Homo sapiens: one gene and its partners. The protein of the gene in region 2 purifies or fractionates together with the protein of the main gene of each other region. This does not show direct contact. Each region holds a gene or a part of one and is shown on either strand. Other genes may lie near its edges. The genes, in order: TRA2A, MEPCE, PRPF3 and SART3.

The links.
Region 1: the proteins of MEPCE (region 2) and TRA2A purify together in Homo sapiens (affinity purification with mass spectrometry; 4 studies listed by BioGRID and IntAct, with this or other methods). This does not show direct contact.
Region 3: the proteins of MEPCE (region 2) and PRPF3 purify together in Homo sapiens (affinity purification with mass spectrometry; 5 studies listed by BioGRID and IntAct, with this or other methods). This does not show direct contact.
Region 4: the proteins of MEPCE (region 2) and SART3 purify together in Homo sapiens (affinity purification with mass spectrometry; 7 studies listed by BioGRID and IntAct, with this or other methods). This does not show direct contact.

What each region holds. Positions count from the first base shown.
Region 1 is NC_000007.14:23,507,962-23,514,982, forward strand, and holds part of TRA2A (transformer-2 protein homolog alpha), read right to left. Parts: intron 5,122-7,021; coding exon 4,933-5,121; intron 1-4,932. UniProt on the Homo sapiens protein: Sequence-specific RNA-binding protein which participates in the control of pre-mRNA splicing.
Region 2 is NC_000007.14:100,425,704-100,432,837, reverse strand, and holds the start of MEPCE (7SK snRNA methylphosphate capping enzyme), read right to left. Parts: upstream 3,008-7,134; 5' UTR 2,820-3,007; coding exon 1,149-2,819; intron 1-1,148. UniProt on the Homo sapiens protein: S-adenosyl-L-methionine-dependent methyltransferase that adds a methylphosphate cap at the 5'-end of 7SK snRNA (7SK RNA), leading to stabilize it.
Region 3 is NC_000001.11:150,316,698-150,324,539, forward strand, and holds the start of PRPF3 (U4/U6 small nuclear ribonucleoprotein Prp3), read left to right. Parts: upstream 1-4,835; 5' UTR 4,836-4,895; exon of another isoform or gene 4,896-5,441; intron 5,442-7,842. UniProt on the Homo sapiens protein: Plays a role in pre-mRNA splicing as component of the U4/U6-U5 tri-snRNP complex that is involved in spliceosome assembly, and as component of the precatalytic spliceosome (spliceosome B complex).
Region 4 is NC_000012.12:108,523,163-108,530,183, forward strand, and holds part of SART3 (spliceosome associated factor 3, U4/U6 recycling protein), read right to left. Parts: coding exon 6,980-7,021; intron 3,392-6,979; coding exon 2,937-3,391; intron 2,448-2,936; coding exon 2,295-2,447; intron 1,345-2,294; coding exon 1,154-1,344; intron 473-1,153; coding exon 295-472; 3' UTR 1-294. UniProt on the Homo sapiens protein: U6 snRNP-binding protein that functions as a recycling factor of the splicing machinery. Promotes the initial reassembly of U4 and U6 snRNPs following their ejection from the spliceosome during its maturation.

The DNA of each region.
Region 1 (7,021 bases), about 77 Mb from region 2:
TCTAGTCTCCAGCGATTTCACTTACAAAGACTGACTTCAGAACATTAAAAAGGGTTTGCTAAGCTTTATACATGTTCTTTTTATAACCTGCCCCCAATCTTATTCTTTAGTTTGCAGTCTAGTACACTGATTAAGACTCAGTGAGCAGCCAAGAAGAAATGATATAAACAGACAAGAACAAATTTATCGTAATGCCTTTCAACCTTTTATTGAGACTGAACTAATAAAAGTATAATAAACTAATAAAAACTACACAATTTTTATGTATCCACAAATATTTCTCCGTAAGAGTGTCCCATAAACTAAAGGTCATTAAAAAAAAAAAAAAAAAAAAAAGGAGGTCTCACTCCATTGCCCAGGCTGGCAGTGGATCATAGTTCACTGTGGCCTCAAACTTCTTGGCTTATGCAATCCTCCAGCCTTAGTCTCCTAAGTAGCTAGGACCACAGGTTTGTGCCACCATGCTCGGCTAATTAAAACAAAAATTCTTGGTAGAGAAGGGGTCTAAACAGTATTCCATTCAATGGAATGCATTTTATTATTTATTTATGAGACCAAGTTTCGCTCTTGTTGCACAGGCTGGAGTGCAATGGCGTGACCTCGGTTCACTGCAGCCTCTGCCTCCCAGGTTCAAGTGATTCTCCTGCCTCAGCCTCCCAAGTAGCTGGGACTACAGGCATGCGCCACCATGCCCAGCTAATTTTTTGTATTTTTAGTAGAGATGGGGTTTCACCATGTTGGCCAGGATGGTCTCGATCTCTTGACCTTGTGATCCTCCTGCCTTGGCCTCCCAAAGTGCTGGGATTACAGGCGTAAGCCACCACGCCTGGCCTGCATGCATTTATTTTTGTAGAGACAAGATCTGTTGCCCAGGCTGGTCTCTTAACTCGTGGCCTCAAGTGGCCTTCCCACCTCAGCCTCCCAAATAGCATGAGCCGCCTTGCACAGCCTAATTCTTGAAGATAAGAGTTGTCTCTTTGGTCTCTTTGAAAAGAACTCTGAGAGTATTATTTGTTTCTGGGACAATTTTTTTTTCCTATTCTCTCACACACATATATATATTTGTAGAGACCAAGTCTCCCTATGTTTCCCCAGGCTGGTCTCAAACTCCTGGGCTCAAGTAAATCCTCTTGCCAAAGTGCTGGGATTAGAGGCATGAGCCACCACACCCGGTCCAATTTTTAAAAAGAACTTTACATCACATAAATGTCTGCAAAAGCAAAGCTGCAACAAATTTAACACATCTTCCATTTGAAGTTCCAAAAATCAAAATTCTCTAAGTTGATCTCCCTGCACCCCATCCTAAGCACCCCCCAAAAAAACACACACAAAATCTCTAAGTACTTCTTACTAAAACAGGGTGAGGAGCTTATATTATTATCTTCACCATATGCACACTAATAACTTTGAAACTTCAGTGAAATTTTCAGAATCAGGGAGAAGTTAGTCAAAAAGGAATACAAATTTTAAAAAGATTTTAAAAATCACTTTAGGCTGGGCGCGATGGCTCACACCTGTACTCCCAGCACTTTGGGAGGCCAAGATGGGGGGATCATGAGGTATCAAGAGATCAAGACCATCCTGGCCAACATGGTGAAACCCCATCTCTACTAAAAATACAAAAATTAGCTGGGTGTGGTGGCATGCACCTATAGTCCTAGCTACTCGGGAGGCAGAGGCAGAATTGCTTGAACCCGGGAGGCAGAGGTTGCAGTGAGCCGAGATTGTGCCACTGCCCTCCAGCCTGGCAACAGAGCAAGACTCCGTCTCAAAAAAAAAAAATCACTTTAGCCAAGTGAAGTGGCTCATGCCTGTAATCCTGGCACTTTGGGGAGGCCAAATCACTTGAGGTCCAGAGTTTGAGGCTAGCCTGGGCAATGGGGCAAAACCCCGTCTCTACCAAAAAATACAAAAATTAGCCGGGCATGGTGGTGCGCACCTGTTGTCCCAGCTACTCGGGAGGCTAAGGTGGGAAGATCACTTGAGCCTGGGAGGCGGAAGTTGCAGTGAGCTGAGATCGTGCCACCACACTCCAGCCTAGGCGACAGGGCAAAGAGCAAGACCTCATCTCCAAACAAACAAAGAAACAACAAACAAACAACAAAAAAAGAAAAAAATCAAATCACTTCAGATTGCCTGTCCCTAAAGACTGGAGACAGTCTCAGCCATACAGAAGAAACCATACAACATGCCTGTGTTAGCTGAGAATTCAGCCTGGGCAACTGAAAAGAGAAACTGTGATTTAGCTGACAAGCCTCGTCACCCCGCTCCTTAAGTAACATATTGTCACCTAGTGAACTAAAAGGAACTTCTAATCCTGCCACTAAGTAACTGCTCCTGTCTTTAAAGTTGCCAGTTAAGCTTTTTTTTCTTTTCTTTTTGAGATGAAGTGGAGTCTCACTCTGTTGCCCAGGCTGGAGTGAAGTGGCACAAACTTAGCTCACTGCAACCTCCGCCTCCTAGGTTCAAGCAATTCTCCTGCCTCAGCCTCCCGAGTAGCTTGGGGTTACAGGCGCTTGCCACAATGCCCGGCTAATTTTTGTATTTTAGCAGATGGGGTTTCACCCTGTTGGCCAGGCTGGTCTTGAACTCCTGACCTCAGGTGATCTGCCCGCCTCAGCCTCCCGAAGTGCTGGGATTACAAGGTGCGAGCCACTGTGCCCGGCCTGCCATTTTAGTTTTATCCAGAAGTGGAAGGGGACAGGTGGAATCAAGAGATAAACACGTTTCACATTAAAAAATATTAATAATAAAAAAATTACACTGTTCTGGCTTGCATTTTGCAACTTTTACTTCAGCTCAGATATCCTAGTATTTCTAAATTGATAACATGTATCTCTTAATTGAGAAAAGGAATATATAAATCACAAATACGTAACAGTAAAAAAAAAAATCATAAGACTGACAAATTAAGGCATTAAACTGCCTGTGACATAAATGACTTAAAAACTAAAGTACTAGTTTGTTAGAGTTATCCGGGGTTTCTCAACCTTAGCACTATTGACATTTTGAGACTGATTCTATGTTATGGGGTGCCAGCTTGTGTACTGTATGGTTATTTAGCAGTGTTCCTGGCTTCTACCCACCAGATGCCAAGAACTTACTGTTTTTAAAAGATAGCCTTATTTGGCCAGGCGCGGTGGCTCACACCTGTAATTCCAACACCTTGGGAGGCTGAGGCGGGTGGATCACGAGGTCAGGAGATTGAGATCATCCTGGCTAACACAGTGAAACCCTGCCTCTACTAAAAATACAAAAAATTAGCTGGACATGGTGGCGGGCGTCTGTAGTCCCAGCTACTCGGGAGGCTGAGGCAGGAGAATGGCATGAACCCGGGAGGTAGAGCTTGCAGTGAGCTGAGATCGCGCCACTGCACTCCAGCCTGGGCGACAGAGCGAGACTCCATCTCAAAAAAAAAAAAAAAAAAAAAAAAAAAAAAAAAAAAAAAAGAAAAGAAAAGAAAAGAAAAACACCCTGATTATTAAGGTCTAATAAAACTTCCAGATATATACAAATATATATATATTAATTTAAAAGACAGAAGGTCTAACAAAACTAAAAGTATTGAGCTTCAAATTCTTTAAAATGCAATTTTCTAAATCAATTACTATCAACTTTTAGTAAAGAGTAAGCGAGCCTAGGCCAGGTATGGTGGTTCACATCAGTAATTCTAGCACCTTGGGAAGCCAAGGCAGGAGGAACAGTTGAGGCCAGGAGTTGTTCCGAGACCAGCCTAAGCAACACAGCAAGACTCCCTGCAAAAACTTAAAGCAAGCCTACCACTTCCTTTATAATACCGAACATGTTAGAATAGCACTATTTCAAGTCATTGACATTGATTAGTTCATTGTGTTAGGCAAGTTAAGAATAGCACTAAAAAATTATCAATTCTTTCCATGTACTATTTTTCAATTATTGAACACACTGATAAATGAACATTTAGAGAATAGAAAAACAAGTTCCTTCCTCATTATAGACACAAAATTAAACATATCAAACCCACACATCAGAATTATTTTTTAAAAGTTAATGTAATCATCTGTTTGGAGCATCATTATGGCTTATTCAAAAGAGAACACTTACACATATACTTTTTCCATTAATTTAAACACATATAGCTCACTTTACACAGCCAGATTTCAATTAGGATATGCCTATAGCAGAGAGCATAACCAAAAAAAGTGAAACTGTAGTCACTCCAATTGTTAACACTGAGAGGCAGAGTTTGAATCAGGTCAAAATTAGAAAGGACACAACAGGCCATGTATGATGGCTCATGCCTGTAAACCCAGCATTCTGGGAGGATCACTTGAGGCCAGGAGTTCGAGATCAGCCTGGGCAACATAGTGAGACCTCATCTCTACAACAAAAAATTATCTGGGCATGGTGGCCCACACTTGTAGTGTCTGCTACTCAGGAGGCTGAGGTAGGAGGACTGCTTGAGCCCAGGAGGTCGAGGCTGCACTCCAGCCTGGGCAACAGAGCAAAATCAGCAAGATCCTATCTTTTTTTTTTGAGACGGAGTCTCACTGTGTCGCCCAGGCTGGAGTACAGTGGCGCAATCTCGGCTCACTGTAAGCTCTGCCTCCCGGGTTCGCGCCATTCTCCTGCCTCAGACTCCCGAGTAGCTGGGACTACAAGCGCCGGCCACCACGCCTGGCTAATTGTTTGTATTTTTAGTAGAGACGGGGTTTCACCGTGTTAGCCAGGATAGTCTCGATCTCCTGACCTCGTGATCCACCTGCCTCGGCCTCCCAAAGTGCTGGGATTACAGACATGAGCCACCGCGCCTGGACGCAAGATCCTATCTTTAAAAAAAAAAAAAAGAAAAAAAGGAAGAAAAAAGGATGCAATGTTTACAGAAATAAGTCTATTAATCAACTTTTCACACTAATTCAGTACTATAATCAGGCATATAAAAGACAAATTTACCTCCTTTGAGTCATCTATTCTCTCAAAATACACAAAAGCAAATCCTCGAGATCGCCCAGTTCGCTGATCATAAACCACATTGACACCACTCAATGGTCCATATCGAGAAAATACTTCACGAAGATCCCTCTCTGTTGTGTACAAACTGAGGCCAAACACTCCAAGGCAAGTGTTGGGATCTGGATTTGCCTATTGAATGGAAATATTATTTAAAACTCCAAATTAAAATCAAAATCAAAGAAACACAGAAATACTTTGTTTAGAACACCTCATCTAATACACAATAAATATATTGTTTCTAATAATTTGGAGATAAGATTTTAAGAGAACTAGAGCAGATGAGCCATATTTTACAATTCACAGTACACCCAAGGCCTTCTTTGGGATATGCTTTCTGTCTATAGCCTGAATTAAAATGTTCTTACTCTCCAGCCCAGCAATGTTCATAATGTATCCTGAAAATCTTGTAATCCCAGCATTTTGGGAGGCTGAGGTGGGTGGATCACCTGAGGTTAGGAGTTCGAGACCAGCCTGGCCAACATGGTGAAACCCCATCTCTACTAAAAATACAAAAATTAGCTGGGCATGGTGGCCGGCGCCTGTAATCCCAGCTACTCCAGAGGCTGAGGCAGGAGAATCGCTTGAATCCAGAAGGTGGAGGTTGCAGTGAGCCAAGATCGAGCCATTGCACTCCAGCCTAGGCGACAAGAGTGTTAGAAATGTTTGTTTCTCGGTGTTGTAAAGAAATAGCACTTGAACATACATTTTTTTAGTAAGGCCATTTTTATTTTCTGTAGAAAGGGTACGCTTGTCAGCAGTTTTGTCACAAGAGTACACTGAACAAAGGAGACAGGGTCATTTATAATCTGACGTGTCTACCTTACTGTTGTGTCTGTTTTTTATTGGCTGGAATGGGACTTCACATTCTGATTTGTCTTGATTGGCTAGTAACTTCAAACTTTTTAAAAGAGGCAAAGGCGGAGGAGAACAAAGGAAGGAGGAAGTAATTTGTGGAATGTTGAGAAAGGTAAAAACACCTTTAAATAAGGAAGAGGAACAGGCTATGACCTAATGCTTGTTTGGACCAGTATAAGCATGTTAGGGCAAATACTTAGGCTAAATTGTGGGAGCTAAGAACATAAAGTACATTGATTTTTTTACTACGGCTAGTAGATTTTTTTTTTTTTTTTTGAGACGGAGTTTCACTCTTGTTGCCCAGGCTGGAGGGCAATGGTGCGATCTTGGCTCACCGCAACCTCCACCTCCCGAGGTCCAGCCATTCTCCTGCTTCAGCCTCCCAAGTAGACGGGATTACAGGCATGCACCACCACCCCCAGCTAATTTTGTATTTTTAAGTAGAGATGGGGTTTCTCCATGTTGGTCAGCCTGGTCTCCAACTCCCAACCTCAGGTGATCCACCCCACCCGGCCTAGCAGATATTTAAGAATGTTAGCACAGCTCTTTGAATAAATTTTGCTTCTAAGAGAAATTATTATCTATTTCTAATTAGATGGGGAGGAAAATCTCTTTGAACAACCTTTACTTTTTATAAGAGTGAAACTCCGTCTCACTTATAAAAAAAAAGTATCCTCAGTTTAATACCATCTTTCTAGTTAATTCAAATGCTTTACATCCCTTACAGATTTGTACTTAATCTGACTTCATCTGTAATTGTTGATTTAGACCTCCTCTCCTCCATTTTCTTTCTTTTTTTTTTCTGAGACAGGGCCTCACTCTCTTGCCCAAGCTGGAGTTTACTGGCCTGATCATGGCTCACTGCAGCCTTGGCCTCCTTGGGCTCAGGGAATCCTCCCATCTCAGCCTCCCAAGTAGTCGGGATTACAAGCGTGAGCCAATATGCCTGGCCCATTTTCATTCTTTAGCGAGGATATTCTTTCAGTGTTCCCACAATCCAGATTTTAGAAATAAATTTACAGATTTCAAAACATTAAATAATGACATGCTCCACCACAGTTTAAGTTAGTATCCTGTGGGAGAAGCATAGTACAGCATGCAAACATGTTCTAAGAACTTTAGAGCCCGGCTGCCTGGTTGAAACCTAGACTGCTAGTTAGCAAAAACTAAACCA
Region 2 (7,134 bases):
CAGTCCCGCGGCCTCACTTTAGCCCGTGGCCACTTTCTTCTCAGACTAACTCCCAAAAGGTGCCTGCCCTCTTTGAGTTTTGTTTTCTCCTCTACACCTTCCTGCCTCTGCTTCTTCCTACTGGTGGTAAGCCAAAAAAGGTCGACGGAGCCTGAGTAATTTTAAATGGTGCAAATTATCCATGAAGTCTTCCAAAGCTAGGGTCCCAGGACCATATCCTGTGTTTATTCTCACTCACAGACATTAAGTGGAGTGACTGCAGGTTCTGCAAGGGTAACTAACCCAGGTTTCAAAGGCAGACCTGTGGTTCCTTCCCTGCAGTTGGGGCTGGCAAAGTTTCAGGCCTATTCTTTCCTTTCTCTGAGAGAAATGAAGAGCCACATCCTTTAGGAAGCCTTTTCTAGAAGCTCAGCTCATCACAACCCTCTAAAAAGACCATTCTTCAGGCTTAACCCAACACAATGCCAAAGATCCCAGTAGGCAGCCTAACTGGAGTGTTCTCTGGGGAGCTGTGTGCAGTCAGGGGACTCTGCAGGGCACAGGACTCTCTCCTCTCTGCAGAGGAGTTTCTGGTTCTTCCCTCTCCCACTATCTAGGGTCAATGTGGAGAGGATCTACAGCCAAACCACTTGGGTTCCTGACACGCTTCAACAAACTGTCTAGGAAAACAAAAGCCGCTGATAGGAGCAAGGTGGCTATCAAAGGGCAGAAACGCCAGTATTAGTCTGTCGCTACCCTAATCTCCTCCCTAGAAGACATTCCATGTCTGACTCCCATTCTCAGGCTCCTTCAGTAAATCTGAGGACCAAGTTCCACCTGGATCAAATTCCCTAGTGAGCAGCAGCCTTCAAGGGAAGGGAAGGTGGACCAGTGTGGATTATAGGCCAAGCCGGGAGCAGAGCAAAAAGAGAGTCCTCCTCTATCTTGGAGATCCTTGCAGTCATGACAAAGGACTCCAGGGTCAATGCCCCAAGGTAGACACCCCACCTTTCCAGGTTATAAGAGGGGAGAGACGCCCAGCAGAGGCTCTCACTTGCCAACCCAGACCCCTCTTTTGAGGATCTGGGTCATAACCTTCCCTGCTACATTCCCATTTAATCTCATCTTCACACCTGGCCCCTATTCCAAGAGCCTCTGGACCCTCTTACCGTGACGAAGACAACATTGTTGGGGAAGACTGATGTGTCCGCTCCATCCAAGGGCACTTGGGGGGCAGCGATGGGACCCCGGCTGGCAGTCAGCGAGGCTGGGAAGCAGCTCCTCTTTCGAACGGTGGTGGTCCCTTCCTCACCCTCTGCCCCCGGGTCCCCTTCCAAAGTCTGGGGTGGGAGACGCAGCTCCTCGGAAAGGTAGTGTCGGATGTTTTGGCGGGCAGAATGGATGAGCCGGGAATCGATATCCAGGCCCACCATGCGGGACGGGCCCCACTTGCAGGCAATGCTCAGGGTCAGATGGCCCACATTGCAGCCCAGATCTAGGACGTCCCGGCCCCGAAACCACTCAGGCTTCAACACCCGAAGGCGCCCATCCTCACAGGAAGGATTGCGGTACCCATAGTATTTGCAATAATTCCCATACTGGAACTTGCGCTGTTGCTTTTTGAAGCCTGCTGCAGGCAGTGGGTGGTGGTGGTGGTGGCGGCCTCCCCAACTCCCTCGGCCCTTTTCCTTGGAACCCTGGCCTCCACCCCTAGCCCCTGCCTCCGACTTGCTGGAAGTCCTGCGACGTTTGCGATGTCGGGAGGAGGAAGATGGGGGTGCAGAGATAACTGAGGCAGCTGGAGGGGCTGATAGGGAGCCTGAGGGACCCTGCAGAGCAGATGGAAGGGGAGACACCACTTCATCCCTGCAGTTGATGGCTGTGTTGAGTTCATAGGGTTGGGGGGCATCCCGGTTCTGGCCCCTGTGCCGCGGCTGCTGTGAGGCGCCCTCCCCGTGGAGTAAGGGGGTGAGAGGGGCTGTGGGCGGCACGGGGTGACTCTCACTCCCTCCGGCTGCCTGCTGCTGCTGGTGGTGCTGTCCCCGGTGTCTATGCCGCTTCCGACCAGTCTTGAGTGGCGAAGCAAGAACTACATGGCCCTCATCAGTGCAAGTATTGAGACTGAGCGGGTCAGTAATATCTTTGGGGATGAGGATCTCCACCGGATCTCGCCCTTTGGCCGGAAGGGGGGATGACTTAGGGGTCTCCGCGTTGAGAGTGCGGCTCACTTCCTCATCCAGGAGGCTATTCAGGTTCAGGGGATCAAAGATATTGCCCCCCAGGAGGAAGTTGGAGGGTAACACAGAGTCACAGTCCGAATTCACCCGCCTGCGCCTCTTGAAGGCCGGATGTTTGAAGCCTCCCCCGCCTCCCCCTACATTACAGCTATTTCTCCTCTTGCCCCCGCCCCCCCCAGGTGGCCGGTGGGGCTGATAGCCATTGCGGGGTCGAGGAGGAGCAGGGGGACCCAGCTCTGTCCCGCCCCCTCCCCGGCGCTCCTCCCCCACGTCCGGGGGAGCGGCTCGCCCCGGGGGATCCGACAGGCGGGCCTCCCCATGCGACTGCGCCTGGGGGCCGCCCCCTCGGTGCTGCTGCGCCTGGGGACCACTGGAGGAGGTGGCCGCGGCCCCGGGGCTTTCCCGACCGACCGCAGCGGCTGGGGACCCCGCAGATGGCGCGCAACGACCCGGACCACGCTCCGTCCCGCCGCGGAGCTCCCCAGAGGCGGCCTCTTGGTGCGGTGGCACCGTGGGGCCGCCCCCTCCGCCCGACTCATCTTTGAGCGGCGGCGGCGGGGCCGGCACCAGAAACGGCTCCTTCTCCGCCGCCATCTCGATCATTTCCTCCCCTTATTCCGTGCCAGTCGGGGTAACGAGGGGGATCAGGGGGCCTAACCCCCCCTGCCTGGACCCTGCTCCCTTCCCCCCTTTCCCGAGTGCGCGCGCAGCTCTGCTCTTCACGCCTAGTCTCGCGCCCAAGCGCCTCCCCGCCAAGTGCGCCCTACTAGCCCGCGAGACCAAAACAAGAGGCCCGCGAGACCCGAACTACTCGAGGACTCAACCGCGCGTGCGCCGACCCCTTTCTCCTCCGCCACTACCACCCGGCCGCGAGCGCGCACGGTGAGCGCGCGTTCCCTTCGCCCGGGAACCACGCATGCGCACTCCGCCACCACCCTGGTTGCGCGCGCATCAGACTACGAACCAACTTAACGGCTCTGGGAGTTTAAATATAACCCCCCCACAGCCCCCGCAAAAGCCCACCACCCCAAACTGACACCCTACTTCCCTGCGCAGCTATGTCCGGCCCTACTGATCTCCTTTGTCTCTGCCGCGCGATCCCACCCACCGTAGGCGGGGGACGGGAGCTGGTGTGAAAAGGTCTCCTTGACACCCGACCCTTGTTCCTGAGGAATGAGTCTCAGCGGTCTCCGCCCGGCTCTAAATCCAACAACCTCCCCACCCCGCCTCCTTCCTCCCCCCTAGTGGGCAGCGCCTGCGCACACCCTTTTGGGCTTGCGCGGGTAGAGGCAGCACGTGCTGAAACTGGCGCCCCGCCCCCCGTCTTAGGGGTTGGGCCTGTGACGTCGCTTCCTTAAGTTTGGTAAACGCAGCGTGCGTCAGCGCGATCCGGAGGGGCGGGGCTTCCTGACGAAGGGCGGGGCTCATGAATTATTCATGAGCTGTTGGTAGCAAACCTCCCCCCCTCTGCCCACCTTCTTAGAAGCGCTTCCGAGGGAGCGGAGGGGAGACCCTACAAAGCCAAGGAAGGGCGGGAGTGGAACTGGGCTCAGTAAAACGCGATAGGTCATTATAACTCACCCCCCTTGAAAATATTCTCTGCTGAATTGGGGAAAAATAAAAAGCACTAAAACAGCCGATGTTGTCCAACTTCCTCTTCCCCCGAAACGGCTGAGTCGTTCTCTGGCTCCTCTACCTTCCCCCAATCGCAATCACCTGGAGACGCCACACCACGCCTTCCTCTCCGCCTCAACACCCACGACCCGAACCCCAACGCATCCGCCCACTCCCGACGCCCGCTCACTGGCCCGTCAGTTCGCGGGCCTCTCAACACCCACCGCGGCGCCACGCCGACTTATATACCAGCGAGTGTGGGCGGGGACGGGGGTTCGGTCCGCGCTGGGCCCCCCCAGCTTCTGCCAATGAGGAAGAAGCGAGTCTACGCCGTTTTCCCGGGGAGATGCGCCGCCCGGTCTCCCTGCCAGCGGAGTGCTGGGCCGAGGACAGGGCGGCAGGGGTGACAGTGGGGTCCAGGAGAGTCTCAAAATCCTAAGGTGAGGGCGTGAAGGAGACCAGCAGGAAGAGGAGGAATTAGAGAACGGAAAGAGGGAGGAAAAGGCAGTCTGAAACAGAAAAGTTAGTAGATGTGCTTCAGGAACAATCAGGCGCCGCGGCCGCCGCCTAAAAATATGTGACACCAAAGAGGATTCTGGGATTTGTAGTTTTCCCGGGACGTTCGGGTGGAAGATGGCGGATTTACCTCAGCTGCGGAAACGCAGACGCTGTTTCCAGTTGCGCATGCGCCTCGGCCCCGCGAGCGCACCGCCCTCGGGTGGAGCTAGTGCTCAGGGCGTCCTCGTGCCTTTTCTTGGTGGCGGGAAACCTGGGTTGAGGTGTGAGGGGCTTGCGGAGTCGCTGCGGCAGCTGGTTCCGCCCATCGCCTTTAGGTCCTCCTTGCTCCTGAAGGTAGCCAGCTAGTTTCTGGTTGTAGGTGAAGGTGCTAGGCGCTGCCAGTCCTGGCACCCGTTGCCTGAGGAGAAACTTTCTCAGGGCGACAACCAGCCCTTCGCCCTTTTTCCTCAGAATCTGTCGCCCCCAAGAAACAGACAAAAAAAAAATAGCCCAGTCTCCTGGCGGGCACCAACGATATGAGTGAGAATAAGGATCACGGGGCCTCGGCAGGAGTGGGGGTGGAGGGGAGATTCCCTCATGGTGGGAGGAAGGAAGGGAGGGGACGGGGAAGAGAGAGGGGGACGTGTGGCTCAGGGACACCGACTTGAACCGCTATCCCTGAGAGAGAATAAGGGGTGAGGGAAGAGAGGAAAAATGGGAGCGCCCCACAAATGGGAAGAACTTCTCTGCAAAACTTCTTCCCTTTGGATTGCAGGTGGATTTGGAATTGGGGCTTTTTTTTTTTTTTTTTTAAAGACTGTCTCGCTCTGTCGCCCAGGCTGGAGTGCAGTGGCGCAGTCTCGGCTCACTGCAACCCCCACCTCCTGGGTTCAAGCGATTCCCCTGCCTCAGCCTCCCGAGGAGCTGGGACTACAGGCGCCCGCCACTGTGCCCGGCTAATTTTGTATTTTTAGTAGAGACGGGGTTTCTCCATGTTGGCCAGGCTGGTCTCGAACTCCTGACCTTAGGTGATCCGCCCACCTTGGCCTCCCAAAATGCTGGGATTACAGGCACGCGCCACCGTGCTCGGCTGATTTTTTTGTATTTTTAGTAGAGACGGGGTTTCACCGTATTGGCCAGGCTGGTCCCGAACTCCTGACTTAAGGTGATCCACCCGCCTCTTCTTTCTTGTTAAAAGTTTTAAATCGGGCTTGCTGAGCTTGTGCACAAACACGAAGGAAGAAAGCAAGGGAGGGAAGGGGGAGGAAGGAAGGAGGGAGGGAAGGGGGAGGAAGGAAGGAGGGAGGGAAGGGGGAGGAAGGAAGGAGGGAGGGAAGGAGAAGAGAGAGAGGGAGGGAGGAAAGGGAGGAGGGAGGGAGGAGGGGGAGGAAAGGGGAGGGAGGGAAGGAGAAGAGAGAGAGGGAGGGAAGGAGAAGAGAGAGGGAGGGAAGGATAAGAGAGGGAGGGAGGAAAGGGGAGGGAGGGAGGAGGGGGAGGAAACGGGAGGGAGGGAAGGAGAAGAGAGGGAGGGAGGAAAGGGGGAAGGGAGGAGGGGGAGGAAAGGGGAGGGAGGAGGGGGAGGGAGAAGGGAGGGAGGGAGAGGAAGGAAGAAGGAGGGGAAGCAGGGAAGGGAGGAGGGGGAGGGGGGTAGGAAGGAGAGGGGGAGGAAAGGGAAGGAGGAGGGGGAGAAAGGAGAGGGGGAGGAGGGAGGGAAGAGGGAGAGAGAAAGGGAGGAGGGCAAGGAAGGAGGGGGAGGGAGAGAAGGAGGGGGAGGAAGGGATGGAGGGACAAAGGGAGACAGAAGGAGGGAAGAAGGAAGAGAGGGAGGGAAGAGGGAGGAAGGAGTAAAGGAGGGAGAGAGGGAGGGAGAAAAAGTGAGAGGGAGGGAGGAAACTGCTATTAGTTAATTGAGGCATGAAAATAAGCAGGAGTCCACATACTGTTATTAATGCAAAAAGGAAGATCAGACTCTGGCTTAAAAAAGATTTGAAATATACTTTTTTTTTTTTTTTTTTTTGAGACAGAGTCTCACTCATTTTGCCCAGGCTGGAGTGCAGTAGCACGGTCTTGGCTCACTGCAACCTCCACCTCCTGGGTTCAAGTGATTCTCCTGCTTCAGCCTCCCAAGTAGCTGAGATTACAGGCGCCTGCCACCACGCTGGCTAATTTTTGTATTTTAGTAGAGATGGGGCTTCACCATGTTGGTCAGGCTGGTCTTGAACTCCTGACCTTAGGTGATCCACCTGCCTTGGCCTCCCAAAGTGCTGGAATTACAGGCGTGAGCCACTGCGCCCGGCTGAAATATACTCTTTAAATACCGCTTTTTTGAGGCTCAGGGAGTCTGGGTTAGAGGACAATGCTAAAGGGTTTACTTCTCTTAGACCAAGGATTTGAGGAACAATATAAGGAAGGGAATGATTGGATGGTTAGGAAGAGGAAATTTGGGAACACATTCTGAATGGTGTGTGGGGAGAGAGAATTACTGTTTATTTAAAAAAGTATTGGCAATACTGACAAGTTATTTCACTAGGTCAGTTCTCAAACTTTTTGGTTTGAGAACCCTTTTATACCCTTAAAATTTATGGAGGACTCCAAAGAGCTTTTATTTGGTTTGTATCTGTTGATACTAACATTTTAGAAATTAAAATTCAGAAACATTTAAAGTTTGATTAGAAATAACAATAATAAATATGTTAACCTAAACAGGTTTTTATGAAAAATACATTCTCCTAAACAAAAGAAAATTTAGCATGAAGAATGGTGGTGGTTTACATTTTTGCAAATCTCTTTCATGTCTGGCTTAATA
Region 3 (7,842 bases), on a different chromosome or scaffold from region 2:
AATGCACAAAACTTTAAATTTTGATGAAGTCCAATTCATCTGTTTTTCCTTTGTTTGCCTGTATGTTTGGCATCATATCCAAGAAATTATCGCCAAATCCAATGTCAAAAAGATACACTCCTGTTCTCCTGTGTTTTCCTCTAAGAGTTTTACAGTTATTGCTCCTTAGTTTTAGGCATTTTTTGAGACAAGAGTCTCACCCCAGGCTGGGCGCAGTGGCTCACATCTGTAATCCCAGCAGTTTGGGAGGCCAAGGCAGGCAGATCCCTTGAGGCCAGGAGTTGCAGACCAGCCTGGCCAACATGGCGAAACCCCATCTCTACTAAAAATACACAAATTAGCCGGGCGTGATGTCGGGCACCTGTAATTCCAGCTACTCGGGAGGCTGAGGCATGAGAATTGCTTGAAACTGGGAGGCAGAGGTTGCAGTGAGCTGAGATCGCAACAGTGCACTCCAGCCTGGGGGATAGAGCGATACTGTGTCTCCGAAAAAAAAAAAAAAAAAAAAAAAAGAGTCTCACTCTGTGGCCCAGGCTGGAGTGCAGTGGGATAATCTTGAGTCACTGCAACCACTGCCTCCCAGGTTCAAGAGATTCTAGTGCCTCCCTCCTGAGTAGCTGGGATTACAGGCATGCACCACGATGCCCAGCTAATTTTTGTATTTTTAGTAGAGATGGGGTTTCACCATGTTGGGCAGGCTGGTCTAGAGCTCCTGGCCTCAAGTGATCCACCCACCTCAGCCTCCCAAAGTGCTGGGATTACAGATATGAACCACTGTGCCCAGCCCTACATTTATTTATTTGAGATAGAATCTCCTTCTGTCATCCAGGCTGGAGTGCAGTTGCATGGGATTATTGATGTGAGCCACTGTGCCCAGCCCTACTTTTATGTATGTATCTACTTATTTGAGACAGGGTCTCCCTCTGTCATCCAGGCTGGAGTGCAGTTGCGTGATCCCAGCTCACTGCAACCTCTGCCTCCTGGGTTCAAGCGATTCTCCTGCCTCAGTTTCCCAAGTAGTTGGGACTACAAGAGTGTGCCACCACACCTGGTAAATTTTTCTATTTTCAGAAGAGACGGGGATTGAGTCACCATGTTGGCCAGGCTGGTCTTGAACTCCTGACCTCAAGTCATCCTCCAGCCTCAGCCTCCCAAAATGCTGAAATTATAGGGGTGAGCCACTGTGCCCGACCTCTAGTTTTTGTATATTTCTTAAATTTAGGTCTTAGATCCATTTTGAATTAATTTTTGTATACGGTATGAGGTAGGGGGTCCAATTTAACTCTTATGTTTGTGGATATCTGCTTTTCCCAGCATCATTTGTTAAACAGACTGTCCTTTCCACATTGAATAGCCTTGGCACCTTTGTCAAAAATCAGCTGACCATGGCCAGGTGCAGGGGCTCATGCCTGTAATCCCAGCATTTTGGGAGGCTGAGGTGGGCAGATCACGAGGTCAAGAGTTTGAGACCAGCCTGGCCAATATGGTGAAACCCCTAATAAAAATACAAAAAAATTAGCTGGGCATGGTGGCATGCGCCTGTAGTCCCAGTTACTCGGGAGGCTGAGGCAGGAGAATTGGTTGAACCCAGGAGGTGGAGGTTGCAGTGAGCCAAGATTGAGCCACTGCACTCCAGCCTGGGCAACAGAGGGAGATTCCGTCTAAAAAAAAAAATGTCGAGCACGGTGGCTTATGCCTGTAATCCCAGCACTTTGGGAGGCCGAGGCAGGCAGATCGCCTGAGGTCCAGAGTTCGAGACGAGCCTGACTAACATGGAGATACCCCGTCTCTACTAAAAATACAAAATGAGGCCGGGTGCAGTGGCTCACGCCTGTAATCCCAGCGCTTTGGGAGGCCGAGGCGGGCAGATCACGAGGTCAGGAGATCTAGACCATCGTGGCTAACACGGTGAAACCCCGTCTCTACTAAAACCACAAAAAATTAGCCGGGCGTGGTGGCACACACCTGTAGTCCCAGCTACTCAGGAGGCTGAGGCAGAAGAATTGCTTGAACCCAGGAGGCGGAGGTTTCAGTGAGCTGAGACTGTGCCACTGCACTCCAGCCTGGGCAACAGAGCGAGACTCGTCTCAAAACAAAGAAGAAAAAAAATACAAAATTAGCCTGGCGTGGTGGCGCTTGCCTGTAATCCCAGCTACTCCAGAGGCTGAGGCAGGAGAATTGCTTGAACCTGGGAGGCGGAGGTTGCGGTGAGCCGAGATCGCGCCATTGTACTCCAGCCTGGCCAATGAGAGCGAAACTCCATCTCAAAAAAGAAAAAGAAAAAAAATACAGCTGACCATATATGTGAGTGTTTATTCTGGGCTCTCTATTCTTCCTTTTTTTTTTTTTTTTTTTTGAGACAGAGTCTCGTTCTGACACCAGGCTGGAACGCAGTGGTGCAATCTCGGCTGGCTGCAACCTCCACCTCCCGGGTTCAAGTGATTCTCCTGCCTCAGCCTCCGGAGTAGCTGGGACTACAGGCGCGTGCCACCACGCCCAGCTGATTTTTGTATTTTTAGTAGAGACGGGGTTTCACCATGTTGGCTAGCATGGTCTCGATCTCTTGGCCTCGTGATCTGCCCACCTCGGCCTCCCAAAGTGCTGGGATTACAGGCGTAAGCCACCGCGCCCGACCCTCTATTCTCTTTTGTTGGTTTACCTGCCTGTTCTTACGCCAGTACCACACTGTGTCTTACACATTACATTTAATCCTCACGATACCTTTTTGAAGTAGAGATTCTTATTCTATAATTGAGGAAACAATCTCAGAAAAAATTACCTGAAGGAAACACAGCTAGTAACCGGAAAGCTACAGTTTAAATGTATCCAATTCTAAAAATTGGAAATAAAATCAGTTTTGTTTTGTCGAGATGGAGTCTCCCTCTGTCGCCCAGGCTGCAGTGCAGTGGCGCGATCTTGGCTCACTGCAACCTCCACCTCCCGGGTTCAAGCAATTCTCCTGCCTCGGCCTCCTGAGTAGCTGGGATTACAGGTGCCCACCACCACACCCAGCTAATTTTTGCATTTTTTTTAGTAGGGATGGGGTTTCACCATGTCGGCAGACTGGTCTCAAACTCCTGACCTCAAGTGATCCACCCGCCTCGACCTCCCAAAGTGTTGGGATTACAGGCGTAAGCCACCACACCTGGCCTAAAACCAGTTTCTAGAAACACATTTCTCCATAGGGAATTGAACGCAGACTGTTAGAAGCACCAAAACAAAATAAATTTACAACAACCCTGCAATGTTGAAACTCATTAACCCATTCAACAGACTTTTTGAGTGAATATTTTGTGAGACATTGGTGTTAGAAGCTGTAGGTGGGGAAACTGATTTGTGAATAAGTTGAGCAGTAGGTTCAAACTCCCCCAACTTGTTCCTTCAGAGCCAGGCTTTATCCTGTTATGTCGTGCTGCCCCATCAGGGAAGGTGGGGCTTGGTATGTACATTGTTATCTTTAGATACAAAAATCTCCTACTATCTGGGGAATGTGAATAACCTCCCTGAAGAACAACTGCATCTTCTAGTCAGCCTACCACCAAGAAGACATTTTGGAACTTTAGTTTGGATAGTTTATAATATAAAAATAATGGAATTTTTTCCATTTCTCATATAAGAAATTGTGTCATAATACTGGACAATCTTTTTCCAAACTATCTTTGTCCACACACATGTTGTTATGAATCATCGATTTAAAGAGTCAGTAGGGGCCGGGCGCGGTGGTTCAACCCTGTAATCCCAGCACTTTGGGAGGCCGAGGTGGGCGGATCACGCGGTCAAGAGATGGAGACCATCCTGGCCAACATGGTGAAACCCCGTCTCTACTAAAAATACAAAAGTTAGCTGGACGTGGTGGTCGCGCGCCTGTAGTCCCATCTACTCGGGAGGCGGAAGTTTCAGTGAGCCGAATGCACTCCAGCCTGACGACAGAGCGAGACTCCGTCTCAAAAAATAAAAAATAAAAATAAAAAATAAAGGGTCAGTAGGTTAGAGCCTCATTTTGGAGAGAAGTTAATATATAGACCTATTGATAGAATGGAGAAAACAATACTGGTAGGTCTCACTTGTCATTTATTGAGCCCAAAGTGCTGGGATTACAGGCGTGAGCCACGGCGCCCGGCCTGACACCACTGTTAAATTAGGGAGAAAGGGTTTACTTTCTACCAGAAAGGCTGTGTTTGAACACAAACGCAGAAGCCTCGCTCTTCATTCTAGCCTAAGTTTACTTTTGCGCACTTATTCTCCATATGAGGAAAACAGCAAGTAGCCCAATTTCCGCTTCAGGAAGTTAAAGACATTAACTTGGCAGAAATCGGCCGGGCGCGGTGGCTCACGCCTGTAATCCCAGCACTTTGGAAGGCTGAGGCGGGCGGATCACGAGGCCAGGAGATCGAGACCATCCTGGCTAACACGGTGAAACCCCGGCTCTACTAAAAATACAAAAAATCAGCCGGGCGTGGTGGCGGGCGCCTGTAGTCCCAGCTACTCGGGAGGCTGAGGCAGGAGAATGGCGTGAACCCGGGAGGCGGAGCTCGCAGTGAGCCGAGATCGCGTCACTGCACTCCAACCTGGGCGACAGAGCGAGACTCCGTCTCAAAAAAAAAGCTAAAAAAAAAACCTTGGCAGAAATCTAGCTAATAGGTTTAGCCTGGGAAATAGAAAGCAAGGAAATTGCTCAGGGAAACTTTTCGGTTCTGCGACGCATGCGTTCAGCCTCCAAGAAAGTGGCAAATACGGCTGCGCGAATTGGCGGCCCGGCCCTCCTTGGTCACGTGTTGGGAGACAGCGGCGTGGCGGCGGCGGTGGCGGTAGCGACGGCACGCCGTAGGGCGGTCAGAAGGTTTCCGGTTCCGGTGTAACGTTCGGGCTCCGTCTCAGGGGCTGAAGTTTGTGAGGTGAGTAGTGGCCCCGGGCCCACAGAGGGTAATTCCAGTCCGCGCCACTGTGGCCGGGGACTCAGTCCAAGGGGAGGACCGAAGCGGGAGGGTTCAGCGGGAAGGAGTGTGAAAGGAGTACCTGGTTTGGTGGGAGAAGAGGTTGGAATGAGATTGTTGAGAGGAAAAGGGCGGGGGCGGGAAGGAGACCGGGTTGGGAGACCAGCTCTGGGGTGAGGAGTTTAGGTAGAACAAGGTAGAGTAAGAGACTGGTTGGAGTGACGGAGAGAGTAAAAATGAAGATTAGCGGGGGAGTGGGGGGCTGCAGAGGGAAACTCAGGTTGTAGCAAACAAGAGCACGGAGTAAGGAATTCCTTCTGAAGACTGGATTTGGATTCTGCTGCCTGCTCATTGAGAGGAGAGATCATTGTACCTCGCTTTCCTTCCGCACCCCCACTACCCCCGCACCTCGCAGTTATTGTTGAGCATTTGATTAGTGACAAGGCTAATTACCGTTTGAAACTTTTTTATCCATTGGCTGTTTAGTTTGCACGTCATCTTATGGAGGTAACAGTGGCACCTCATTTATTGCTTTGGGCTTTCAAATTGCTTATACTTTCTAGCCTATCATTCAATTCTAGTGGAATATAAGACCCGTTAAGGTGAGGACTCTTGTTAGTTTTGCTCACTGTTTTATGTATCCACCGCACCTAGTACATTGCTTGACACTTAGTAGTTACTCAATAAATATTTATTGAATGAATTAGGATGTAAATATGGCAGTACTCATTTTGTAAGATGGTAAACTGTGGCTCCAAAGAATTACTTAACTTGCCCAAGGGCTTGTAAATGGTGGGGCTCAGTGTCCCAACTGTTTCTGTGTGAACTCTTGTTTTCACTTTCTATGGCATCTGGATATGCCGCTTTTGTGCAATACATGTGTAATATGTAGAAATTGGTACGCTGTATGTCTACTCATTGTGGGGTAATAGAACCACCATAGAATTACTCACGTAACTTGTCACTGAGGCAGAAAATCTTTCAGTCTTAGTTTCATCACTTCAATCTACTAGCTTCCTTTGGATATACCAAAAGTGAGTCTATTTGGCATCAAGTCTTATAGACTCTAGTATAGAGGCTAAACTTACCAAGAATGTAGAAGTTAATCAGACTGGATTTTTTGGAGAAAAGATGTCTTAAAACATCTTGAAAGATGATTCCCAGATCTTTGATAAGTGGCACTGCTGGGAATAGCTGAGCTTGGAAATTGAGGTCAGTCAATTTATTGACTCCCATTTAGACACCTTTTTTTTTTTTCCCCGGGACGGAGTCTTGCTCTGTCGCCCAGGCTGGAGTGCAGTGGTGCGATCTCGGCTCACTGCAACCTCCGCCTTCCATGTTCAAGGGATTCTCCTGTCTCAGCCTCCAGAGTAGCTGGGATTACAGGTGCAGGTCACCACGCCCAGCTAATATTTGTATTTTTAATAGGGATGCGGTTTCACCATGTTGGCCAGGCTGGTCTCGAACTCCTGACGTCAGATAATCCACCCGCCTTGGCCTCCCAAAGTGTTGGGATTACAGGCGTGAGCCACCGCACCTGGCTTTTTTTTTTTTTTTTTTTTTTTTGGAGACACAGTTTCACTCTGTCGCTCAGGCTGGAGTGCACATGATTTTGGCTCACCGCAACCTCCGCCTCCTGGGTTCAAGTGATTTTCCTGCCTCTGCCTCATAAGTAGCTGGGATTACAGGTGCCCACCACCTCACCTGGCTAATTTTTGTATTTTTAGTAGAGACAGGTGCAGTGGGTCACGCCTGTAATCCCAGAACTTTCGGAGGTCAAGGTGGGCAGATCACTTGAGGTAAGGCATTACCTGGCCGATATGGTGAAACCGTGTCTTTATTAAAACTACGAAATTGGCCAGGCGTGGTGGTGCATGCCTGTAGTCCCAGCTACTTGGGAGGCTGAGGCAGGAGAATCAAGTGAACCCAGGAGATGGAGGTTGCAGTGAACCAAGATTACGCCACTGCACTCCAGCCTGGGCGACGGAGTGAGACTCTGTCTCAAAATAAAAATGAGGGTATTCTTTTCTGAGCTGAAGGATCATCAAGTCAGCTGATGGAGACCCTGTAGATTGAACATGATAATTACCTGTATGCAGAATTCCCACTGGGATGAATATGACCACAGAGAAATGTGACAGAACATTCTTTTTTTTTTTTTTTGAGACGGAGTCTTACTCTGTTGCCCAGGCTGGAGTGCAGTGGCGCGATCTTGGCTCACTGCAACCTCTGCTGCCTGGGTTCAAGTGATTCTCTTGTCTCAGCCTCCCGAGTAGCTGGGATTACAGGCGCCTGCCACCATGCCCAGCTAAATTTTTTTGTAGTTTTTAGTAGAGATGGGGTTTCACCATCTTGGCCAGGCTGGTCTTGAACTCCTGACCTCGTGATCCACCTGCCTCAGCCTCCCAAAGTGCTGGGATTACAGGCGTGAGCCACCGCGCCCGGCCAGAACATTCTTAAAGATCATGAGATTTAATTTAATATCTAAGATGACTGACCTGGATAAACCCTCTTTTACTTGCATACCTTAAAAGAAGGGAATCCTACATAAGTCAGGGTTGGGTTAGGGAATGCCTGCCTGGAAGTAGGAAGAATGGAAAAGCTGGCCTCTGGATGGGCTTTTTTAGTTCTGTTTTAGTGTTACTAGGTTTGCAAGTCCTTGTTGATATGACAGGATCAAGAAAGAAGCTAGAACTAATTTCTCAGACTTAGCTTATTCACAGAGTTTGTTTATTCCGCAGATTTCATTGATCAACTTAAGAGTTAGAATTAAAAATCAAATGGGATCTCTTTCTGCTTTGAGATATGGTTCTTGGGGAAAATATTTGCCTTCAAATGAGTTGGAAAAACTTGTCTAGGGATTGAGAATAGGGCTGGGGAATGCATTCCTGATGTACTAACCATTTCC
Region 4 (7,021 bases), on a different chromosome or scaffold from region 2:
TGTTCTCGTTTCGCTTCTGTGCCTCAGTCTTTAAGATACAAAACTATCTCAGGACACCACATCCTGGGCCCAGCCTGCAGAGTGGTCACTTTTCTGCCACTGCCCTCAATATGAGGGAGCACTGAAAGGCTCTTGACTTAGAACCCCTTCCCCTTTCTGTCTAAAGCCGAGGAGCCATCTGTGGTTGCGAGCACGCAGCACACCAGGCCTGTCCATCCCCAGTGCACTGCTGGGTGGTGGGAGGTCCGCCGGGCCAGAGTGAAGTAAGGCATTTCCTGTCTCCCAGCGTCCCGTTCACTTTCTCAGAAACAGCTTGGCAAAATCGGCATTGGACATCTTGGGTGCCTCGGTGGCTGCTGGGGCGGCAACTGCAGGAGCCGCGGCAGGGCCGTTCTCAGCCTGAGGAGCTGCAGCACTTGGGCGCTGCAGGGCACGAGGCAGTAGAGACAGCTGCGTCCTTCCCTTCCCCCTCCTAAAAGAGCAAACACTGAATGGACCTTTTGAAGCAACAATTCGTGGCCCCTCATTTATTTGTGAAAATAAGCCAAGACAGTTTTAATATAACCAGAAGTTAAAAGGTGAAAAAAAAAAAGGATAAGATAATCCCTGCCTCCTTAATTCTGTTTATGAAGTAAAAACTGCTTCAACAGACTTGGCCTTGTTCAGTTTTGGCAAAGATCAACCCTGAGCACCAGTCACACTCAGAGGGGATCAGTGTGACTATCACCTCTCAGACCTCACCAGTCACCTGGCAATTCTGCTATCTCCTCCTCATCCCAAACCAGCGAACAGCACAGCTTATGTGGATCATAGCTAGGGCCGTAGACTGGCACACACATGGGTATGAGATTTCTTTGTAAACACACAGATCCAACTGGCAAAGGGGACTTTAAAATAATCACTGCCTTATTTCTGTCTGAAATAAATGACAAGTGTAAATTGGCCAGTACCAGGCAGAGGTCACTGCCTAGGCTTGCATCCTGCTCTGGACGCCTTGCTCCAGTGGAACCACAGTGATTACCACAAGGAACAGCACATCTTGGCTTTTCTGTCCTAACAGGAAGCTAATTCATCCCGGGTTAATCCCCCCGTGATCCATGAACTGGTGCCAGCCAGGACGAAGTTTGCACTAGTCTACCATGCAAGCACTTACGCTCCGTATGTCTGCGGCAAAAGCATGGGGCCACCTGGTGCCTTCCTGGTCTCCGGCTTCTCTGGAACTTTCCTCTGAGGAGGGTTGCTGATTGCCACTTTGATGATGTTCTCTTTGATAGTCATGCCGTCCATCTTCATCACAGCCTGCGACGCCTGGGATTCATTTTCATACTCCACGTAGGCCAGGCCCTGGAAGAGGCAAGATCCAGAACCAAGTCAGATCCCGCAGACTAGGGACGCAACCTCCTCCTGCAGGGCAGGCACTGGGCTTCCTCCCGGAGACCAGCAGACCAGGCCACAGCAAACGACCCACCAACAGGTTACCTTCCCCACCACCGCATCCTCTGTCTACAGGCTTATTTCCCCACCCTACTCTCCTTCCCGAGTGCTGCTATGCACTGTAACTTCAGATAACCCTTCCAAGTTCAGCACACCTTGTACGTGCTGCAGAAGTAGAAAGAAAGAAGGAAAAAGACAGATGGACCAGTATAAATCCAGCAAATAAACCAAGAGGTGGATGGGACACAGGGCCAGCAGCCCAGGTGCCCAGGTGAGCCCTCGTGTTTCTGTGCCTTCACCCGCTCCCTCATTTCATCCTCTTTTTCTCTCCATTAACCTGGATAAAGGGGAGGGAGAGTGGGCAGTGGGTAGACAGTAATGAAACCACTTACTACTCAAAATGGGGCACAAAAGGACTTAGCAGGAGACTGAGGGGGCAAGAAGGAAAGACAGGAGAAGAGGCACTGCAATGGAGGGACTCAAGGGGCCTGGTTGGAGGCCCCAGAGAAAGAGAGGCCTGGGACAGAGGGAGAAGGCTGCAGGAGGGCGCCCACCCCAAAGCCCGTATGCTGCTGGTCACAGGGCTTCCCCCAAGCCCCACAGCCAGGGGCCATAGTGTGGTGAATTCATGATCCTCTATTTCCAAGTGTCTTATTCTTTTTAGTACAATTAACTACAAACAGGTTAATCTGACTCCAAATATAAGTAGAGCTAAGTGCAGATCTTTCTGTGAAATTAACTTTTGTTTCTCAGCAGACAAACTAGGAACCCATTCTAGAGGTTAAATCATCTTTGAACCGATACAGAAACGAAGTTTGCCCAAGCCTTGAAGACAAGGCACAATCTGCTCTGACTCTGACCTTTGGTTTGCCAGCCCGGTTGGTGACCAGCCTGAGGTCCTTCACGGTGCCATGAGCCTTACAGATTTCTTCTAGTTCCTCTTTAGTACAGGAGAAAGGCAGGCCTGAGATGAACAGCTTGTGTTTCTCTAGGGAAGTGCTGTACCTGAACACCTATAGGAAGAAGGAAGACAGAGAAAAACCATGATTCGAGGCATGACCCAGCTCACCTGACTCCTCTGACACCAGCCTTGTCCCCATGAGCAGCCCAGCCAGGCAGACTAGAGCCAAGCCATGCTCTGAAACTTGTTAATGGGGCCACCGGAGCGAGTCACTTAACCTCTCCAGGCCTCCATGTCTTCCTCTGTAAAACGGCAAGAATAAAAGTAACCATTCACAGAGTCTCATGAGGAGTCAATGAGCTGACACACATAAAGCATTCAGCACAGTCCCTTGTCATTGCTAAGCACCCAGCAAGAAGGAGCCATGCCATGAGTCAGACCTCAGTCAACCGGCTCAGGATGGACCTTGGCTCACAAGGAAGTTTAGATCCAAACAGAGCGTAAAACTTCCATGTCTATCCTAAATATCACTGCTGCAGGAAGAAAGTGCCTGTCTAAAGCAACCACAGATGAAAGGCATTCTTTTTTTCCATAAACCTACCTTAAAATCGGGGTTTTTGCTCTTATCCACACAGGGGGAAACAAACATTGGCCTCCCTTCTACACTTTTCCGGTCCATCTCCAGTGCCTGAAGGGCTGATTTCTCTTCTTTAAACTCCACGTAGCAGTAACCTCGGAAATCCCCACGGTTGCTGAAGATGGGTCGGATCTGGACCACCTCCCCACAGGCCTCGAAGAGTGGCCTGAGCTTCGTGTCCGGCTCCTGCATGCTGTAGGGCAGGTTGCTGACAAAGACGGTGATGCTGTCCTTGCTGCTGTCGTGCAGCACCTTGGGCATGTCCCTCTTCAGGGAGGCTGCCTTCTCCTTCTGCTTCGAAGGGGGCTCCACATCTACGGCAGCACATTTCCCAGCGGGCCCTGCTGCTACTTCTACATTTTGTGTTTCTCCAGCTGCAGGGATGCTGTTCTCGACCCTTCTGCGTTTGGAAGGCTGCTCTACAGGTTTTCAAAAGAAAAGTAGCCATGGTTAACTGTTACTTCTCTTCAGGGAGCTTGAACAGAGGTGTGAAGTGAAAGTGCTGTGACAGCTGCATGTGACACTTACTCCCTCACCAGACTCGGAGGGGCAAGCACCACCCCGAGAAGTCTTTTGTGATCCGCCTGACCTGTCCCACGACTTTCTGTGCCCCAATTACACTCGGGTAAGTGGGCTCAATCAAGTGGAAGTAATAACATAAATCCCCATTGTCCACTCTTAATTATACAAAAGGTCAGTGGATCTCAAAGTTCAGAAGGCAAATTCCAGGGCCCCTCTCCTACAAAGCCCAGATCAGCAGGGTTGGGATAGGACATGAGAATCTGCACTGGAAAAGCACCCTAGTGACTGATACCCGTGCCCCAGGGAGCACATTTTGGAAAGCACTACAAAGGATCTGTGGTTTCTAAAACACTTTCAATATGGCCTTGTGTCCTTAAGAGAGCTTAACCACAATCTTCTACTGCAGTCTGTCCTCACCACTGCCTCCAGAGGGCCAGTACTGAAGCTCAACAGACATCAGCCTCCGGCAAACAGACCTCCCCATCAGTTCACCCGCTGCCTTTCCAATGCAACGTAAGCCCTGCACACTGCTACTGTATTCAAGAGTGTCCCTGGGCTGGGTCCAGCTGACTGGCCCACCTACCACTCCAGCCTCCTCGACCACTGCCCCACCCCTCTCTAATGCATCTGAGTTCAAACCCAATTATCTGCTGCTCACAGAAAATGCCAGGCTGTGCTGTGCCTTCAGGCTGTACTAACATTGGCTCCTCCCTGTGTAGCTCAGACCTTCCCTTCTCGCTGCCACAGTCACTCGGTCTTCCCCCTGGATGCCGCATCTCTTCCCCCACAGTCTTCCTGGTACGAAGTTGACCCACTAGTGCCTTCTTTGGCCTCCACCAGTATTAACAATGCCATCTCCCACAGTCCTGATCACACGCCATGCCCTGATCACACACCACTGCGGTCACACATCACATTTGCCTTATTCTGCCAAACTGGGAGGCCAGTGGAGCAATGAGCCATCCTCAGTCATTTAGGAAAGCCCAAACAAGGTGTGCAAGCAAGGTCAACTCAACGATGGATGACTCCATTCCCAGTTCTCTCTGGCTCACACATCTGTATTAAGAAAGTATACAGAGTCCTTTCAAGTCCAGAGACAATTCTTTTTTTTGTTTTGTTTTGTTTTTGAGACAGTGTCTTGCTCTCTCTCCCAGGCTGGAGTGCAACGGCATGATCTCTACTCATTGCAACCTCTGCCTCCCGGGCTCAAGTAATTCTCCTGTCTCAGCCTCCCGAGTAGCTGGGAAAACAGGCACCCGCCACCACAGCCAACTAATTTTTGTATTTTTAGTAGAGGCAGGTTTTCACCATGTTGGCCAGGTTGATCTTGACCCCTGACCTCAGGTGATCCGCCCACCTCAGCCTCCCAGAGTGCTGGGATTACAGGCATGAGCTACCGCGCCCAGCCACCAGAGACAATTCTTTACCTTGACTGACTCTCTGAAATAAATATGACCCAGAGCTGCCCGTCCCTGAAATTACAAGGGTGAAAGAAACACTGCTGGAAAATTCCACTAAGTCAGAACCATTAAAAGCAGGGCCAAGGCCAGGTGCAGTGTCTCATGCCTGTAATAACAGCACTTTGGGAGGCCAAGGCGGGAGGATCACTTGAGGTCAGGAGTTCAAGACCAGCCTGGCTAACATGGTGAAACCCCGTCTCTACTAAAATACAAAAATTAGCTGGGCATGGTGGCTGGCAAAGTGTAATCCCAGCTACTTGGAAGGCTGAAGGAAGAGAATCACTTGAACCCAGGAGGCGGAGGTTGCAGTGAGCCGAGATCACGCAACTGCACTCCAGCCTGGGCGACAGAGCGAGACTCCCTCTCAAAAAAAAAAAAAAAAAAAAGTAGGGCCAAGCCTGGCAGGTCTGTGCAGGGTTGGGGCTGCAGCAGTGGTGCGGGATGCTAGAGCCTGAATGGAAGGAAGAAGACAGGCAGGCATGGGGCAGTGACAGGGACCCAGCAGCCTAGATCTGGAAGCCTGAGTGAAAGAAGCAAGGGTGTCCATGCAGGGCCGTGCCTGGCCCCGGGTGTGGGAGACCAAACAGGGTGGGGATGGCACATATGAGAAGGGGAGGCAGGCACAGGAAGTTGATTACATACCTACAGGGGCCGGGTGGAGTAACTGAGGATGCTGAGAATAGAGGGAGCCAAGTTTCTCAAGGTCAGAGAAGGGCGTGACACAGCTGGGCACAGTGGCTCACACCTGTAATCCCAGCACTTTGGGAGGCCGAGGCAGACAGATCACTTGAGGCCACAAGTTCAAGACCAGCCTGGCCAACATGGCGAAACCTGATCTCTACTAAAAATACAAAAAATTAGCCAGGTATGATGGTGCATGCCTGTAATCCCAGCTACTTGAGAGGCTGAGGCACAAGAATCACTTGAACCCGGGAAGCGGAGGTTGAAGTGAGCCAAGATCACCCCACTGCACTCCAGCCTGGGCAACAAAGCGAGACTCTGTCTCAAAAATAAATGAATAAATAAATTTTAAAAAGAGAGAGAAGGGCATTGCAAGTGTGAAGGGGAACCCTGTGGTGTTAGACCGGAACTGGAGGTATTGGTGTGAAATCATGACTTTCAGTATATACAAATAGTTACACAAGTAAATATGGTCATAAATATGTGTACACATGCACACGCACACGCACACACACACACACTCCCTACCCTCGACCACTCAGGCCTCAGAACAATAACCAACAGCAGTGAGCACAACTAGCACCTTCTAAATACCACTCATCACTCAAAGGAACCTTGGAGAAATGATGGATTCCAGGGCTGAGTTATGGAAAGTATAAGATGACCCTTGGGTATTGTGTGCTAGAAGGTAAGGAAATGATCAAAGAACAAGGGGACAGGTCAAAGGGACATAGAAGCCTGTGTGAAGGAACTCTTGCTAGCCAAACCTGGGATAAGTAGAGAATCAGCATAAATAATTCTCAAAAGGGTCATCACCAGTGATGGAACAAAGCGAATCACAGTCCACCTGATGGGACTCAATGGGCAGGCCACAGGAGCACTTGTGCACTATTCCTGCCCGAGATGCATGAGTGGAATCCAATGCTTAGGGAGCATCAGACACACCCAGGCTGAGGGGCACAACACAGCAACTGGCCTGCCCCCTTACAAGACTGCAGGTCATCAGAGTAAAAAAAAAAAGCTGAGGAGTGCTCCAGACTCAAGGAGATCCAGGAGACAGGACAACTAAACACAATAGTGCATCCTGAACCGGATCCTTTCACTACAAAGGACATTATCAGGATAAATGGGAACCCATAGCTCATTGCTAACCCCGGCTCTGATGGCTGCATTCTAGTCATGTAGAAGAGGGCCCCTTGTTTGCAAGACATACACCCTAACAGTGATCAAAGGGTAATGGGTATCAAGCTGGTAACGGTTCAGGGAAGAAAGTTCTTCATACTGTATTCGCAACTTCTCTAACTTTAAGACGTTTCAAAACACAATTTCTCAAGAGCTCCTTACCTTCTTCATCATCGCCCCACTCTTTCTCATCATCCTCATCTG